2 separate regions of the Homo sapiens genome follow, and region 2 is linked to region 1. Evidence: fine-mapped expression QTL. Tissue or cell type: monocytes after LPS. Region 1 holds a variant in brackets; the other region holds the start of a gene. All regions are shown on one strand. Distances are between the middles of the regions.

What was found. PIP is the estimated chance that this variant, and not a neighbour inherited with it, causes the effect.
Region 2: NCF2 starts here. The variant in region 1 is fine-mapped to the expression of NCF2 in monocytes after LPS (Fairfax 2014, PIP 0.95).

Annotation. Positions count from the first base shown.
Region 1 is chr1:182,782,652-182,790,758 of GRCh38, reverse strand. It overlaps NPL (N-acetylneuraminate pyruvate lyase), which reads right to left and starts at 986. Exons shown (of 13, transcript NM_030769.3): 1 at 954-986. RefSeq lists an enhancer at 833-1,333. The variant T/GTGTGTT (reference allele first, on the strand shown) is at 4,647.
Region 2 is chr1:183,586,288-183,594,394 of GRCh38, reverse strand. It overlaps NCF2 (neutrophil cytosolic factor 2), which reads left to right and starts at 3,936. Exons shown (of 15, transcript NM_000433.4): 1 at 3,936-4,239; 2 at 7,418-7,500. The coding sequence starts at 4,066. It also overlaps the pseudogene C18orf32P1. RefSeq lists enhancers at 527-586, 3,207-3,546, 3,657-3,916.

The sequences.
Region 1 (8,107 bases):
GGCAGGAGAATGGCGTGAACCTGGGAGGTGGAGCTTGCAGTGAGCCGAGATAGCGCCACTGCAGTCCGGCCTGGGCGACAAGAGCGAGACTCCGTCTCAAAAACAACAACAACAACAACAACAACAACAACAACAACAACAACAAAAGACTTTAACAGAGAATGATCAGTATTTTTAAGATTCAAGTTTTTAATAAACTTGGGAATGTTATGCTTTGAAGCATAACAGATAATTATCATTATTTTTAAGATTCAAGTTTTAGATAAACTTGGGAATGTTATGCTTTGAAGTTTTCAGAGCTCGTAGCTAAAGCGAATAGCTCAAATGTTCTCCAGCCTAAGGCTTAATGTGAATTTAGATTATTACTGAAACATTGGGAGGGGGTATTACTCTTGAAATCTTATACCTCCATCCACAGATAAGAACACTCAGTGCAAAGAATTAAAGCTGCCTAAGTCAAATTCTTTTTTAAATGGCAAAGTTGTTTTTTTAAGAGACAGAAAGTGAGGGCAGAATGTACCTCTGGGCAGAGAATATCTTGAGGGACAGGTACTCGGAGAAGAGGAGATACAAATAGGGATTTTTAAAAAAGCAGAAAACCACCAATTTCTCCTCAAGTGAAGGGGGGATGTATCAGGTTTAACTTTAAGCTCTCTTCTGCTCAATTGCTAACTCTATTTTGAGGAAAGGACCTTTGGAGACCCGGCAGATATGCTGTCTGCAAACAATCCGGGGGAGTAAGTTCTTCTGCCCCCGTCTGTCCCTACACTTTTCGCATTCACACCTTCCCCAGATCCGTTTCCCAGCGTATCTGCCTTCCCTCTTTCCTCCGGGTCCGTCAACGTCTCACCCACCCGCGAGTCAGGCCCCAGCGCCCCTCCGCCCGAACGCCCAGGTCGTCGGGCCGTCTGCGTCCGTCTGTCCTAGCCCGTGCCGTCGCGGGCCGCGCTCACCCAGGCCTCCGCTCTTGTCCGTGCAGCCGCTCCGCCCGGCAGCCGCCGCCGCGCTTTATATCCGCGGCCGCCCGGCTCGGGCCCACGTGCCGCCACGCCAGGGAGCCTGGGGGTTGTAGTTCTGCGCCGCCGCCCGCGAGGCGCGCCCGGAACCGCTGGCCCGGAAACCCCGAAACGTTTTGCACACTGGAGTCTGCTCTTCCCCGGGTGTCACCTGAACAACATGGGCTGAAGTGACTCCGGCGCAGCGCCCCGGCTCCCCGAGGATCGGAAGCATCCGAACTGGCGGCCGGGTGCCCGAGAGCACGCGGCTCACCCGCGCCACGCCGAGTGCAAACCTCCCCCTGCCTCGTCTGCACGCCAGTCCTTCCCGCGTGCGGGCACCTCCTGGGCTCCGCTGCGTCTTAATTTTCCTTCTCTTGCGCAGGGCTCTGCAATCCCCACTATCTCGTGGTTCTGCGTTGTGAGGTTTGGGCTGCTGTTTCCGAGGCGTACGGAGAATCCCAACTGCCCATCGGCGTTCAGGTCTCTTCGGGTTGACGCCGCTGCACCAGCCCTGCAGACTCTCGTGTTAAAGAGAGATGAGCGAATTTTAAAGTGAATTATCTACTCATACGGGAGCTTTCCTGGCTTCTTTTGGAGAACATTTGAAAGAGTTTTGAAAGGGAAAATTATTTTTAACCCAACCGCCTCTACTTTCAGGAGTATCAGGAGTCTTATTCTAGGATCATGTACTGTGTGAATAAATCAGGAACAGAGCCAGAGACAAGTCCTCAGTTTTCTCTTGCTGATGTGATTCCACCTCAATTTTCCATAAAAGGCGATGGCTGATGCTTATTATTACATTTAGAGAAACTAAATTGTTCAAAGGGCTTTCTAGTTTGCAAAGTGCTTTTAAATGTATTCTAATAGTTCTTTCGTTGCACAGAGCACCAGAGATAATAGCTAATAAGTACTGTGTTCAGTGCTTACTCAGCCTGCACCGTTCTAGCTGTTTTAACATTTAATTCATAAAATAATCCCATTGGTGGGTCCTGTTTTATAAATGTATATATTACAGATGAGCAAGGATCATTCCATTTTACAGATCAGAAACAGGTTTAAAGAGTTGAAGTAATTTGCCAAAAGCCATAGAGCTGGTTAAGCTGTGGTTTGATTTCAAGTAGTCCAGAAGCTTGTGCTTTTAACACTATGTTATCCTACAGGAAAAAAAAATACAAAAAGAAAAGAAAAAGAAAAACCCTTAGTTACATGAAGCAAGTTCTCCTAAGGCTGCAGCATGGTTTTTGTTTTGGTTTGGTTTTTGTAATATTAACAAGAATATTATATCCTAATGGTACAATGAAAGTTTTTTTTTTTTTTGGAAAGTCACAGTTTAATAAGTGCAAAATTAAGTATGTCAGTACCCAAAAGGTATAGGTCATTAGGCTTAACATTGTCAACCAACAAACCAATATTCTAAATGCATGAACTAACTACTTTTTGTATAAATATGGTAGTGCAAAGTAATTCCTTATAATAATTTGTTAGTGTCTACCAAGAAGCAGATGCTAAGATGGGATTAGATGTGCAAGAAACTTACTGGGGGAGGGATTTGGAGCAGACAGGAGCAGCCTGCAGACTGATGTAGGGCTGACATCTGTGGAACAAAAGATGGAAGAAAGGAGCATGGAGTAGGGAGAGTCTCACTGCATTCTTACAGTATCCACTCTGTGCCGTTATGAAACTCAGAGCCTATACTGTGAAGTGTTGGGGAGACGTTGTTTTAAAATATGGTAAATGCAGTGATAGACTGTACAGAGATATTACAGGAACACTGAGCTCTAATCTGGGCTGAAGGGGGTGGTGTGTGTGTGTGTGTGTGTGTGTGTGTGTGTGAAGAGGCAGGAGGGTGTTCCAGAAACGTCTTACTGGGGAAGGTCACAGCCAAGCTAAATATCAGACAATGAGTAGGGCTTAGAAGAAGAGAGGCAACAAAAGGCTCAGTGCTGAACTGCAGGCCTCTAACCCCCTTCTGATAAGCGGCAGTCTCTGTGAGATTTCTTCTATTATTATGTAGTATTATTTAATCATTAATTTTCTTGCTTTTGTTTCTTGCCCCCAACTCCACTGCAAGGTGTTCAAGGCAGGCATCATGTCCTATTCCTTTGTTTTTCCCACAGTGCAGGACATAGTGTCTATCCAAGTGCAGGCCAAGAGGGTGAGATTTAGAAATATTACTACCATCAACTCTTCTTTGTTTAAAACAAATGTATGTCAGGGTTTTGTATCAGATTTTGTTTGCTACAATTCAAATTTGAAACCCACTGGTGCAGGGGAAAGAGCTTGGGAGATATGGTGCAATGAACTTGGTCAGAACAGTCATATGTTCTATCCTTGGAGCTGGAGGTGATGCCCCCATCACAGGCTCCTGAACTGACTGTGGGTGAGGGGTGGTCCCCCAGAAAGTTTCCCCTTATCTTCTGGTAAGGCTATACTAACCTGAAAAGAGAAAATGGGTTTTCAACAACTGAAACACTGCTAAATTGCGGAACACTTATGAAGGAAGGAGACCTAAGTTGGATCTTGAAGTGTTGTTACCCATTGTGTTCCAGTAAAAGGTCTGTCCACAGGTGGACAAGAGTCTGTTCCATTCACTGTGAAGAATGCGTAACCGGGTATGAGAGTCACTTCTGGAAATTCTGGCTTGTATGGGTGTGTCAATGGGGCTGATGGAAAAGGTAGGGTTTATTTTTTCATCAGAGTCCAGAGGTCTTCAGAGAAGGGAACAGGCCACGAATAGAAGTTGAACTGATTGCTGGCCCTGAGACAAAAACCCTTGTCCTTTAGGGTTTATCTTCTGAGCGTGAGTGCTAACTAGGAGAGGGACATCTCTTGAGAAGGGAAAAGTCCTGTGCATAAGCTTGGGTTCAGAAGATCCTTTGGGATCCCAGGAGGGGGCAGCATAGTGCGGCCATGCTCAGCTGTCTTTTGGCTTAGCCCTTTAGTGAATGCTTACTGGGTTCTTAAGGAGAAAGAGCTAGAAGGAAAAAAATGAGTTGAACACAAGAGATATACTTCCATATTTGGCATTCTTAAACCTAAGATCTGTGACTCCAGATTTTTAAGTAACGACTTTATTGACATATATTTCACTATGATACAATTCATTTAAGTGTATAATAGTTCAGTAGTTTAGTCTATTCACAGAATTGTGCAACTTGTGTCACCATTTTAGAACATTTTCATCACTCCCTCCAATAAAACCCTAGCCATTAGTAGTCACTCATTTTTCTATTTCCCCCTCCCCACCCCCAGCCATAAGCAGCCACCAATCTATTTCTTTCTTTCTTCTTACTTTTTTTTTTGGTTGCCCAGGCTGGAGTGCAATGATGCAATCTTGGCTCACCACAACCTCTGGCTCCCAGGTGATTCTCCTGCCTCAGCCTCTGGAGTAGCTGGGATTACAGGCATGCGCCACCATGCCAGGCTAATTTTGTATTTTTAGTAGAGGCGGGGTATCTCCATGTTGGTCAGGCTGGTCTCAAACTCCCAACCTCAGGTGATCCGCCCACCTCAGCCTCCCAAAGTGTTAGGATTACAGGCGTGAGCCACTGTGCCTGGCCGCCACTAATCTATTTCTATAGATTTGCCCATTCTGGACATTTCATATAAATGGAATTATATGGTGTGTGTGTGTGTGTGTGTGTGTGT[T/GTGTGTT]TTGAGACGGGCTCTCACTCTGTTACCTAGGCTAGAGTGCAGTGACATGACCACAGCTCACTGTACCTTTGACCTCCCAGGCTCAAGCTATCCTCCCACCTCAACCTCCTAAGTAGCTGGGACTATAATCGTGTGCTGCATCTGGCTAATTTTCTATTTATTTTTTGTAGATACAAGGTCTCACTATGTTACCCAGGCTGGTCTCAGACCCCTGAGCCCAAGAGATTGCCTGCCTTGACCTCCCAAAGTGTGGGATTACAGGCATGAGCCACTTCACCCAGCCATGCTATGTGGTCTTTTGTGTCTGGCTTCTTTCATTTAGCATACATAACATTTTCAAGATTTATTCATATTGTGGATTGAGTTAGTATTTCATTCCTTTTTATGTCCATTGTATGGCTATACCACATTTTATTTATCTTTTCCATTGTGACAAGGATGCTTTTCATCTGGCTGACTTCTACTCAGATGCAACCTTCCTAAAAGGGACCTCACTCAGATCTTCCCAATGTAGGTGACAACCTCTCCTCATAACACCCAGTGCTTTCCCTTCTGATCACAACTTCTTGGTGTGGATGTGGTCTATCTGTTCTGTTTCATGTGACACATATAGTGCCAATACTGCATAAATGGTTGAAATAGTATGGCATGCAGAATGGATGTTGATAACAGAGAGCTATGTGCTGGCTCTGTCGCCTGAACATAGACTTTATCACTGATGGGAGCAGGGTGCCTCCCTGTTGACTAGGGTTAAGGCAACAGTAGGAACCCTCCTGGCCAAGAGGGCTGGTATCACACAGAGAGTAAGGACTGGACAAAGAGGACTGTAATGCCTCTTTGTGACCAAGCAGGATGGATTCCTGGCATAGATTAAATCTAGGGAACATTGTCTTGTTGCTGAGTTTGTGACTTCCTTGTCCTGAATCGTATCTCTAGGCCAATGTGACCAGTGGGTTACATACACTCTTTTGTCACCACCTAAAAATGGAGAAAACTTTAGAAAATATGGGCCTAGTTTGACCATTAGCAAGGAGAACACTGAGGGTGCTATGAGTTGTAAACAGAAGAGAAAGTTACGAATCTTAATTTTGCCTACAGGGCTTCTTTGACAATATTCAAATAATTACAGAGGCAAAACTTCCTTTTGAAGGATGTGCAACCTGTTTTAGCTATTGCCGACAAGGACATTAGACCTTTGGGAAGCACAAAAGTGAGTTACATTCTGCTTGTGACAGTATTGTAAAAGGTTCCCCGGAGATCTTAAGGAGTAATGAGCATGTTTTCTAAAAACATTCCAAAGCTCAGCAGCCACTTATATTATGAATAAGGTAAAAACCCACCGCTAGGTGACAGTCTATCAGCAGAAATTGCTCCTTTATGACTCTTTCTAGACTGAAAATTTCTGGGGACATCAGGGAACAACAAAAGTATTAGATAATAGTTTTCTGCTCCCATTCTGTGTACTCTTCCTGTGCAGTTTACTCCCTCAGTTTTAAATGTTCTTCTTCAATCTCTGCCTCTCTCTCATTTATATTAAAATAATGAAAATATGTTGTATAGAAACAGAAATGAGACATGGAAAATTAACACTTGCCTCCTGTCCCATACTGGTTTTGTTTTTGTTTTTGTTTGTTTTGTTTTTGACATAATCTTGCTGAGTGCAGTGGCGTGATCTCCGCTCACTGCAACCTCCACCTCCCGGGTTCAAGTGATTTCCCTACCTCAGCCTCCCAAGTAGCTGGGACTACAGGAGGACACCACCACCATGCCCAGCTAATTTTTTTTGTATGTTAGTAGAGATGGGATTTTACCATGTTGGCCAAGATGGTCTCAATCTCCTGACCTCGTCGTGATCCTCCCACCTCGGCCTCCCAAGGTGCTGGGATTATAGGCGTGAGCCACCATGCCCGGTTGGTTCTTTGGGTTTTTTAAATAAACATACCTGTAAGAAGAGTACACCTAGTGCTCTTGACTTTTCAATGTGTAGAATATACTGTAAAATCCAGTTCAAGTTTAGTTTATAAGTATTTTCTCTCTCATGAATAAAACTCTATGTTTCCTTCAGCATTTGAGGTAAAAATGGGACAATTAGGAGAAATAAATTTTAGGTCTTTTACGAAGAACTTCACTTTATATCTCTTTTGAATGAAGGAAAAACTCCCTGGAAAAAGTTCAGAGTGTGAAATTTGAAATTTAACTTGGTGCCACCCGAGGCTGGTTTGATTCTCGGTAACTGCTGTATTTAGGCACTAAGAGTCAGGGCTCTAGGAAGCTTAGATCCCTCCTGGGCAAATGTGACTGATCTTGTCCCTCCTTTTCCCTTTTGCCCAAGCCTGCAGGGCGCTGTTAGCCTGGACTAGCACACTCAGATTCCATCTTTCAGAGTGGTTTCCCCAGTCGCCATTGGCCTGGTTCACTGGTGCCTAATGAAAAGCTCCAAGAGGTTATTCCAAAGTCTCTCGTGTTACTCCTGTGCTCCATATCTCAGTTTTAGGTATTCTGTTATCTCTGTAACCTAAATTCTGTTATTTCTGAAAGAAAAACATACGATGTATATTCATGCATTTAAAGATAGACCAAGTAGGCACAAAAAAAGGCAAAATGTGGAATGCTTTTTATTCAGTTCTTCCATTTGTATGAAAAGGAAAAAAGAGGTGTTGTAGGGATATACTTGTATATGTGCACATATTTCTAGAAGGATACCAGTGATGTTCAAAATATTTAACAACTGGTTCAGCACTGACACACAGGGATGGATGCTGGTTTTAGAGCTCTAGGGATCCTGGAGTTCCCCTAACATTTATGCTTTCACCCTGTAATGACGGTCAAGACTCTGGGGGGCAGCACTCCAAGACCATGCCAGGCAGCCACCAACTGCTTCCTGAGGGGGCTGAGGCAGGAGGGACTTATTTTTCAATGTGCCCTTTAGTGCTGTTTGAAAGGTTATTTTTTGTTTGAATTCTATTTATGTGCACATAGGTAGATTTTCATTTTGTTTAGCTTAGGAGATAAGTCTTATTTTTAGAATTTGTTTGCGGACATTTCTGTCTAGTTATTTGCCTCCAGCCTGTCTCCAGCCTCAGGGCCATTTCCTTTAGTTCCGTTTTGCTGACTCCTCCACTGAGAGCTCTCCTTAAGCTTCTTAAGCCCCTCTGTTTGAGGGGAAGGGAAGGCCTGGCTGAACTCCCTCTCATCATCTCTCAGTTGCCCCCAACCCCAACACTGTGTCTGAGTCTCCTTTTATTACTTATCTTGGGCCTCTTGTCTTTCCACCTACCAGACCTCAATTCCATTATTAACCAGTATAGGCATCACTCTGCTTAATCTTGTGATCAGAAAATAAGTGCTTTTTTTTTGGTGTTCCCACAACTTTTGTGCATATGGAGAATTAGGTTTCCTATACACACCAGCCCTAATGAGAATAGTTATTATATTAGTGGTAATACTCACATGGCATTGGC
Region 2 (8,107 bases), 800 kb before region 1:
CTCAGTCACCTAGGCTGGAATGCAGTGGCGTGATCATCACTCACTGCAGCCTTTGAAGTCCTGAGCTCAAATGATCCTCCCACCTTAGCCTCCTGAGAAGCTGGGGCTACAGGCATGTGCCACCATGCCTGGCTAATTTTTAGTGTTTTTCTGTAGAGATGGGGTCTGGCTTCATTGCCCAGGCTGGTCTCTAACTCCTGACCTCAAGGGATCTTCCCACCTAAGTGTTGGGATTACAGATGTGAGCCATTGTGCCCAGCCAGATTTGCAGAAAACAGATAATGCAACACATCTCATCAGCATAACTAAGCATCTGAGCTCTTTGTAATTTTCCATTCTCTTTTCTTTCAGACAATGGCTTGTTCTTAGTTGTCTCCCCTCATGATTATAAGACAGCTGCCATATTCCAGACACATCTCACAATGCTGTCTAGTAGAGAAACAAGTGCTGTTTCTTCTCATGTGTTTTATTTTTTATCACTGGGGAAGAAATCTTTCCCAGAAATTCTTAGCAGACTTTCCCTCCTGAAGCGCATGGCTTCAGGAAACTGGAGGCTTGAACAGAACTGGGGTTCTACCAAAAGGAGGAAGGCGAATGGACAGTGGCTGAACAGACCGTCTACTAACAGCACCAAGTAATGATTAAATAGACTGCCCCTGCATTGAGGGACAGAAACAATGTCACAGATGACATACAGTTACAAACTGTAACAAATACATGATCAGAGAGAACCGTGCACATAGCAAGGTCATGGATCTAGAAAGGCCACTCATTGAGGAAGTGAAAGATGAGTAGGAACTAGCCAGGCAGGCTTGGGGGAAGAGTGTTACATGGGCGGAGGAAGAGGCTGGCTCATATGAAACCATGAAAGGAGGCCTGTGTAGCTGGAGTTCTTGGGAGAGGAGGAGGGGAAATGACCTGGAATGAGCACAGGGCAGCAGGCAGGGGGCTTCCTGCAGCATGGGAAGGAGTTCGGGTTATATCCTGAGAGCAGTGCAAAGCCATGGAAGGTTTAAAAACAGGGGCCATGAAGTGATCTGACTTGTGTTTTTAAAAGCTCAATCTGGATGGAGAGGCAAAGAAATGTTAAAAGACTATCATGTTCACCTGGGAGTTGATAGTGGCTTGGCCTGAGTGGTGACAGGAGAAGGGGAGGGAAAGTGGATGAAATGGAGCATGAATGGCTTTGCTAGTGCCCTGGGGGATACAAACATGGGTTAGCCCAGGACTTCCTCCTGAGGCACACTATTTGAGGTGCTAAGACTTGCATGCACATACATTGGTGAAGAGTGATTAAGGGCCACATGGGAGGTGCGGAGAAGGAGATGCAGGAGTTCAGAAGGCGAGATCATGGGTTTGAGCGCTTTCAGGCAGGACTGATTTCAGGGCAGTGTGTTAAGGAGAGTGCTATTTTAGCAGGCCTTCGAAGGCTATGCAAGGTGGGTTTGAAGGTGCAGACATGGGAGAGGGCAGCCTAGAAAGAGGAACTAGCACGAGTCGCACAGATGCAGGAATGAAGGCATAGCGGGAGAAGAGTAAGCAGCAGAGTTTGTATGGGATTGTGAAGGAAAGTTCTGGGGATAAGGCTAGAAAAGTCTTGGCAGTCAGATTAAGGAGAGTTCTGAGTGTCAGGGTGGGATAATAGGAGGGCAAAAACATTTTTTAAAAATGAAGTCTAATTTAGCTACAAATCCATTTGGTTTTCTCAGGAATAATTAATGTGCTATTCAAGTCCTGATTATTTATTCACTAGATGGAATAGCAATACCTCTTTCTGCCATCACTGCTACCTGCAGGTCATTTACCAATGATTTCTAATTTCTTTTAGAATGTATCCCTTCATCATGTATTGAGTATCTGTGCTAGAGATCCTAGAATGAAAAGGCATGGTCCCAACTTCCAAGGAGCCCATGAATTGAGCAGATAAAGAGATAAATTGCAGTAAGTATGATGCAAGTTTTTGGGTAAAGGTGGTACAAAGGAGAGGAAAATTCTCCTACTACCCAGAGTTCAGGGCTAGATTTAGCACAGTTGGTGACATTTAAACTGGGCTTTGAAAGATGAGTAGGAGTTTGCCAGGCAAAGAAGAGAGCTGGGAAGGCCTTGTAAACACAGGAAAACAATCTGGACAAAGACACACATGTCTTCTTAATTCTCACACCTTCAATCCTACAAGCACTGTGGAGTATACATTTTTAAGTTTTATTTTCAGGCTTTTAGGGGAAGCTTGGTGATAATGAGTGAATTCTTTCAGTTGCTACAAAACAAGAGTTTGCATCTAAGTATTTGACCCCCATAAACATGCATTTTACCTAAAAAGAAGCCTGGATTTTAGCAAGCCAAATTGGCTATACCCTTTACCCCCAGTTATTCCTCTGGGAGGTTTTACTGATTTTTACTTTTCTGGAAAAGCAAGGAAAGAACTCTTAAATCTGTTTTTTCAGAGACTAGTAAATCCATTAGTCATCAGTGCAGGACTTTCATCTCTTCAATTTTTCACTGGAAGATGGGAGAAGTCATAATTCACTGTCATGTGGCTCCCAATTTTGACATTTGCAGGAAATTGGTCCCCTCTGAACTTCATGAATGTTCATAAAAGTTATTTCGGCTGGGCACGGTGGCTCACTCCTGTAATCCCAGCACTTTGAGGGGAGGCCGAGGAGGCCGAATCACCTGAGGTCAGGAGTTCGAGACCATCAGCCTGGCCAACATGGTGAAACCCCATCTCTACTAAAAATACAAAAATTAGCAGGGCGTGGTGGCAGGCTTCTGTAATCCCAGCTACTCAGGAGGCTGAGGCAGGAGAATTGCTTGAACCCAGGAGGCAGAGGTTGCAATGAGCTGAGATCGTGTCACTGCATTCCAGCCTGGGCAACAAGAGTGAAACTCCGTCTCAAAAAAAAAAAAAAAAAAGTTATTTCAGGCCCAGATCAGATGGATCTCCAAAGATTATCCTGTCTCAAAAATTTGTTAATGATAATTTCAGCTCAAGATAAACACTAACATATTAATACAGCCTATGGGATTACAAAAAAGTGAGCAAGGAATTCATTCAAGACTGGAAAGAATTATCCTCTCATCTGACACTCCCATTTAACAAGGGTGTGGAAATCAAGGCCCAGTGACACAGGATTTTTTCTCCATCACTTTGTAAGCCAGGAACCTCTGGCTGGTGACACCCTGCCCAGGCCTCAGTGGGCCACACTACCTGCTGCAGGAGATGGCCTGCCCACTCGGCCTGGGTGGGGAGTTTTATTGAGTGATGAAAACAGCTTTCAGTGGAGAGGGGATGCAGGGGTGGTTCCCCTACCCAAAGGCAGGAAAGTCCCCCCAGTGCGGGTGAGTCTGGGGCTTTTATGGGCTCAGAATAGGGGAGGGGCAGGACATAGGTAGTACTGGAAAAGGCAACATTCAATTGGTTAAAAGGCATTAGTCAGAAATAATTAATTGGGAAAGAGCAGACAAACAGGAACAGAAGTTCTCACTCTAGGTCACGGGTTTCATTTGGGACCAGTAGCCTAGTCTTTCAGCCTTCAGGCTGTTTTTGGCTTGAAGGTGGGGTTTCACCAGGGACCTGCCCCTATCTGCCTAGGCATTTGGCTGCCTCCTGTCATTATCACCAGGGAGGTGCCTCTACCTGCCAAGGTTACCCTGGCTCTAGAAGCAGAACTTTGGCCAGAAGCTGCCACAGAACAGGGGTGGGAGAGAGAAGAGGAGCTGGGTGACAGAGCAGAAGCATTTTGGGGAACTGATCCTTCAGGCAGCAGCTGATGTACTTCCTCTCTCCTCCACACTCCACCCCTACTCGCCCTCTCTCTCTCTGCTTCTTTCCTTTTCTCTCTCATGGTAGGGTTATGAGTCAGTTGCCAAAAGGTGGGGACATTTCCTGATGCATTTGCAACACTGAGAAGTTATCTTAAGGGAGGCTGGGCCCCATTCTACTCATCTGGCCCAGAAAGTGAACACCTTGGGGGCCACTAAGGCAGCCCTGCTAGGGGAGACGCTCCAACCTGTCTTCTCTCTGTCTCCTGGCAGCTCTCTTGGCCTCCTAGTTTCTACCTAATCATGTCCCTGGTGGAGGCCATCAGCCTCTGGAATGAAGGGGTGCTGGCAGCGGACAAGAAGGACTGGAAGGGAGCCCTGGATGCCTTCAGTGCCGTCCAGGACCCCCACTCCCGGATTTGCTTCAACATTGGCTGCATGTACACTATCCTGAAGAACATGACTGAAGCAGAGAAGGTGAGTGGAGGTGCCTCTTTCCGGGCCTCCTCTGTGCATTTGTTATTATGATTCTCAACCCCATTGCATTTCGGAAACCTAACCTCTGGGGAGATTGAAAAGAACAAAAGTTGCCCAAGCTCCACCCCTAGACAGCCTGATTTAACTGGTCTGGGAGGGGCCCCAGGCAGCCAGTTTTAAAAGCTCTCCAGGTGGAGAGCAGGTGAGGGGCAGCCAGGGTTGCCTCTTTCTCCATCTTCTAAATTAAAATCATTCTACAAGTGTCTTTAACACCTTTGTGAAGGCTGTCCTAGTCGTACTTTCTTCTACACAGAACTCCTTCTGGGCACAGAATCTCTATCTATCCCAGCGCTTTACACCTGATTATTGATTCTAAGGCACCTCTTTTGGCTTTCCAAGACTTTCATGTGTGTCGACTTTGCCTGCTCAAGAGATTTAAGGGAGGCACTTACAAAAAATAGCTTTTATCCCAAGTGACAATTCTGATCAATTATAAAGGAGACTCTTTTAAAGATGCTGAGGCTGGCAAGAGGAAATTGTACTGTGATTGACTAGTGATGTCTGCTGGGGGCATGGTGTGGGATGTCTCGCATCTTTTTCGTTATGTTTTCTCACTCAAATACCATAGTATGGAGTTAAGCATTCTCGATAATTATTTTTTTGATTGGTTGTGGTAAGGTGGAAAGGGTATGGAGTTTGGAAGGAGAAGATCTAGGATCGAATCCTAGCCTCTGTCTCTCTCTGGACTTTTAGTCTTAAGCAAGCTATGTAGCCTATGTAGACATCTGGCTTTCAGCTTCCTGAGTTTCTAAATATCATGAAAATTAAGTGAGATGCCAAACTATTAATGTCTCGTGGAACTTCACACCACTGTATAAGAGTTAGTTATTATTTTTACCGATTACTGCCAGTCTTTGCAAGGTGTGGCAGTGGTTGACTCCCCAGGTCCCTTAAAGAATCAGTCCCTTCCACACTCCAACAGTAGGTAAACAAGCCTCAGCCACACCCTCCTGACAGGAAGACAGAGAAGTGACTGAAATGTTCTCACATAGCTTGACAAGTCAATCTCAGGCTCTAAGGCAGAGCATGGCAGGACCCCCCACCTCTGGCTGGAGGAAGGACATGGCCCCACCTCCTCTCAGGGGCCTGCTGAGGGGCTGAGTGAACAGCACCACACATTCTGAGGGCTGATGGACACAAAGTGCACATTGTCCAGGAGAAGAGATTGGCAGCTAGTCTGGGCACAGCTATGCCAGCAGGGACTGTAGCCTCCTGCCTTGGCCTGGATATGGGATCCTTGGCAAGGTTGTGTGGGCCACCACTCACTTCTCAGCTCCCAGGCCTTCAGGCCCACATGTCTCTGTTTCTCCTGGCATTCCTCTGCTTCTAGCCTTCTCATTCCTTCTGCCTTTCTTTGTTTTCCTGCTTGAGCCCTTCCTACTAGCATTTATATGCATTCTTATTCATTATCATTTTAATTGTATACTATTCATGTATAAGTTTGTATAGTAAACAAATATAACAATTTATATAATATTTTAATTATTTTCATTTGCAATAAATTTTATTATTTATTTAAACTGAATGTTCAATACATTCATAGGAATACAAGAAATGCAACAAGGGTTAAAATTTCATTATTACATTAGATATCATTTTTTCTTTCTTTTTTTTTTTTTTTGAGATGGAGTCTCACTCTGTCACCCAGGCTGGAGTGCAGTGGTGCAATCTCGGCTCACTGCAACCTCTGCCTCCTGGGTTCAAGTGATTCTCCTGCCTCAGCCTCCCAAGTAGCTGGGATTACAGGCATGCACCACCAAGCCCGTCTAATGATGTTTCATTTTTCAAAGAAGCTTCTCCTATTTCCCTATCTTTTTTATCTTCCACAGAGCAATAAATAGTAATTACTACTCTCCTGGACAAGGTGCTCTGTTGTGTTGGATAGGAATTGTATCTTTAAGTTTGACATCATTATCACCTCCAAAAACTCTACCTTCACTTCATAGCACAGTCTCGCTGCATTGTTTCACAGTAAAATTGTACTCTACTCAAACTAGGAGAACTCAAAGAAATTAGAGCAAACAGCAGTTAAATTCATATGAATGAAAGACAGAAGACCAAAGATTTTAAAGTACTGATTTAGTAACATAGTGTCTACTGGCTCAAAGCTTCTATCTAATCATATTAAATCATATTATTAAAACAGCGATAATAGAAATGAAAGCTACACTAATGAAAAAGGAACTTGGGAATGAGGTCATTAAATATAACTAACTATATTTTAAATATAGATATGTATTTTTTATTAGTATCAGGTAAATGTCTAAATTATCTATTCTGAATTCTAGTCTCAGAGAAGGTCAGAGACAGTTACAAAGAAGGCGCTTCATATTGTCAAGTCCATTTTTAAAATGATGAGCTCCTTTGGGAAAATGCTTTAGTGTTTCTTTTCTTCTAAGATTTCTGTTGGTGATAATCCATTAGTGTCTGCACCCTTATAGTCCACTTTGTCTTTATTTGTATCATTGGATTTTTTTTTTTTTTTTTTTTTTTTTTTTTTGAGACAGGGTGCCTTACTTTGTTGCCCAGGCTGGAGTGCAGTGGTGCCGTCACAGCTCACGGCAGTCTCCACCTCCTGGGCTTGAGCGATTGACCTACCTCAGTCCCCCAAGTAGCTGGGACCACAGGCATGTGCCACCACATCTGACTAATTTTTAAATTTTTCGTAGAGATGGAGTCTCACTATTTTGCCCAGGTTGGTCTTGAACTCCTGGGCTCAAGTGATCCACCTGCCTTGGCCTCCCAAAGTGCTGGGATTACAGGTGTGAGCAACCGCACCTGGGAATTATTGGATTCTTGTGTAGCTTTTCTAGGCCATATATGACTAACAAAAGCAGAAATCAGATGGTATATGTATGGCTCCAGGAATGTTTTGTAGATCCACAGCAGAACTGGAATGACAATACAAGGAATGCACACCATTGTCCCAGACTTCAGCTTCTAAATGTGAGAGCGAAGTGGGGTGCACCGTGAGAGCACAGGGTGGGCCTCGAGGTGCCGACGAGGGCAGACAGCAGAGCTGGGCACCACAGGGAGCTAGGGCTCTGTGAGCCGTGGCTCATCTCACACCTCCTCACTGCCTTGCATCATGGCCATGTCTGGACCCTTCTCTCCTCAGGCCTTTACCAGAAGCATTAACCGAGACAAGCACTTGGCAGTGGCTTACTTCCAACGAGGGATGCTCTACTACCAGACAGAGAAGTAAGTGGTTCAATGTTGCACCAACTGGAGGATTTCAGAGAGAAACCCAAGGGGTCTCAGTGTTGCGGGCTTGGTGTTTGAGCAGTACCTTCCCAACCTCTGTTGGGAAATGTGACTGGCCCTTCTGGGGACAGTTATGCAATAAATCAGCAGGTGAGGCAGAAGCTCTCACTGGGGAGGCAAGGCAGGTCTGCCACCAGATTATAAATCAGCTGTGTCATAGGCACAATGAGCCTAGGTAACCACCATGGGCCTGATACTCAGCTGGTGTGACACCCCACCAGTGTCCCTGATGGGGTCACCCATGTAGGTCTCCTATGAGGTACTGAGCTGTCACAGAATGGGGATGATCATGAAACTGCATCAAAACCTGGCTTCATCCCAGCAAAATGCATTTCCAAAACCTGGTTTAATCCATTTGAGGAAATATACTTCAGCTGCAAAAATGATAATACAAATTAACATTATATGTATAAGAATAAATTACTACAGATAAGTAAGTAGCGTATGCACTTATACAGAAAAAGTTTGCAGTAGATGTTAATTTTTTTTCTTTTTCCGAGACAGAGTTTCACTCTTGTTGCCCAGGCTGGAGTGCAAGGGCTCG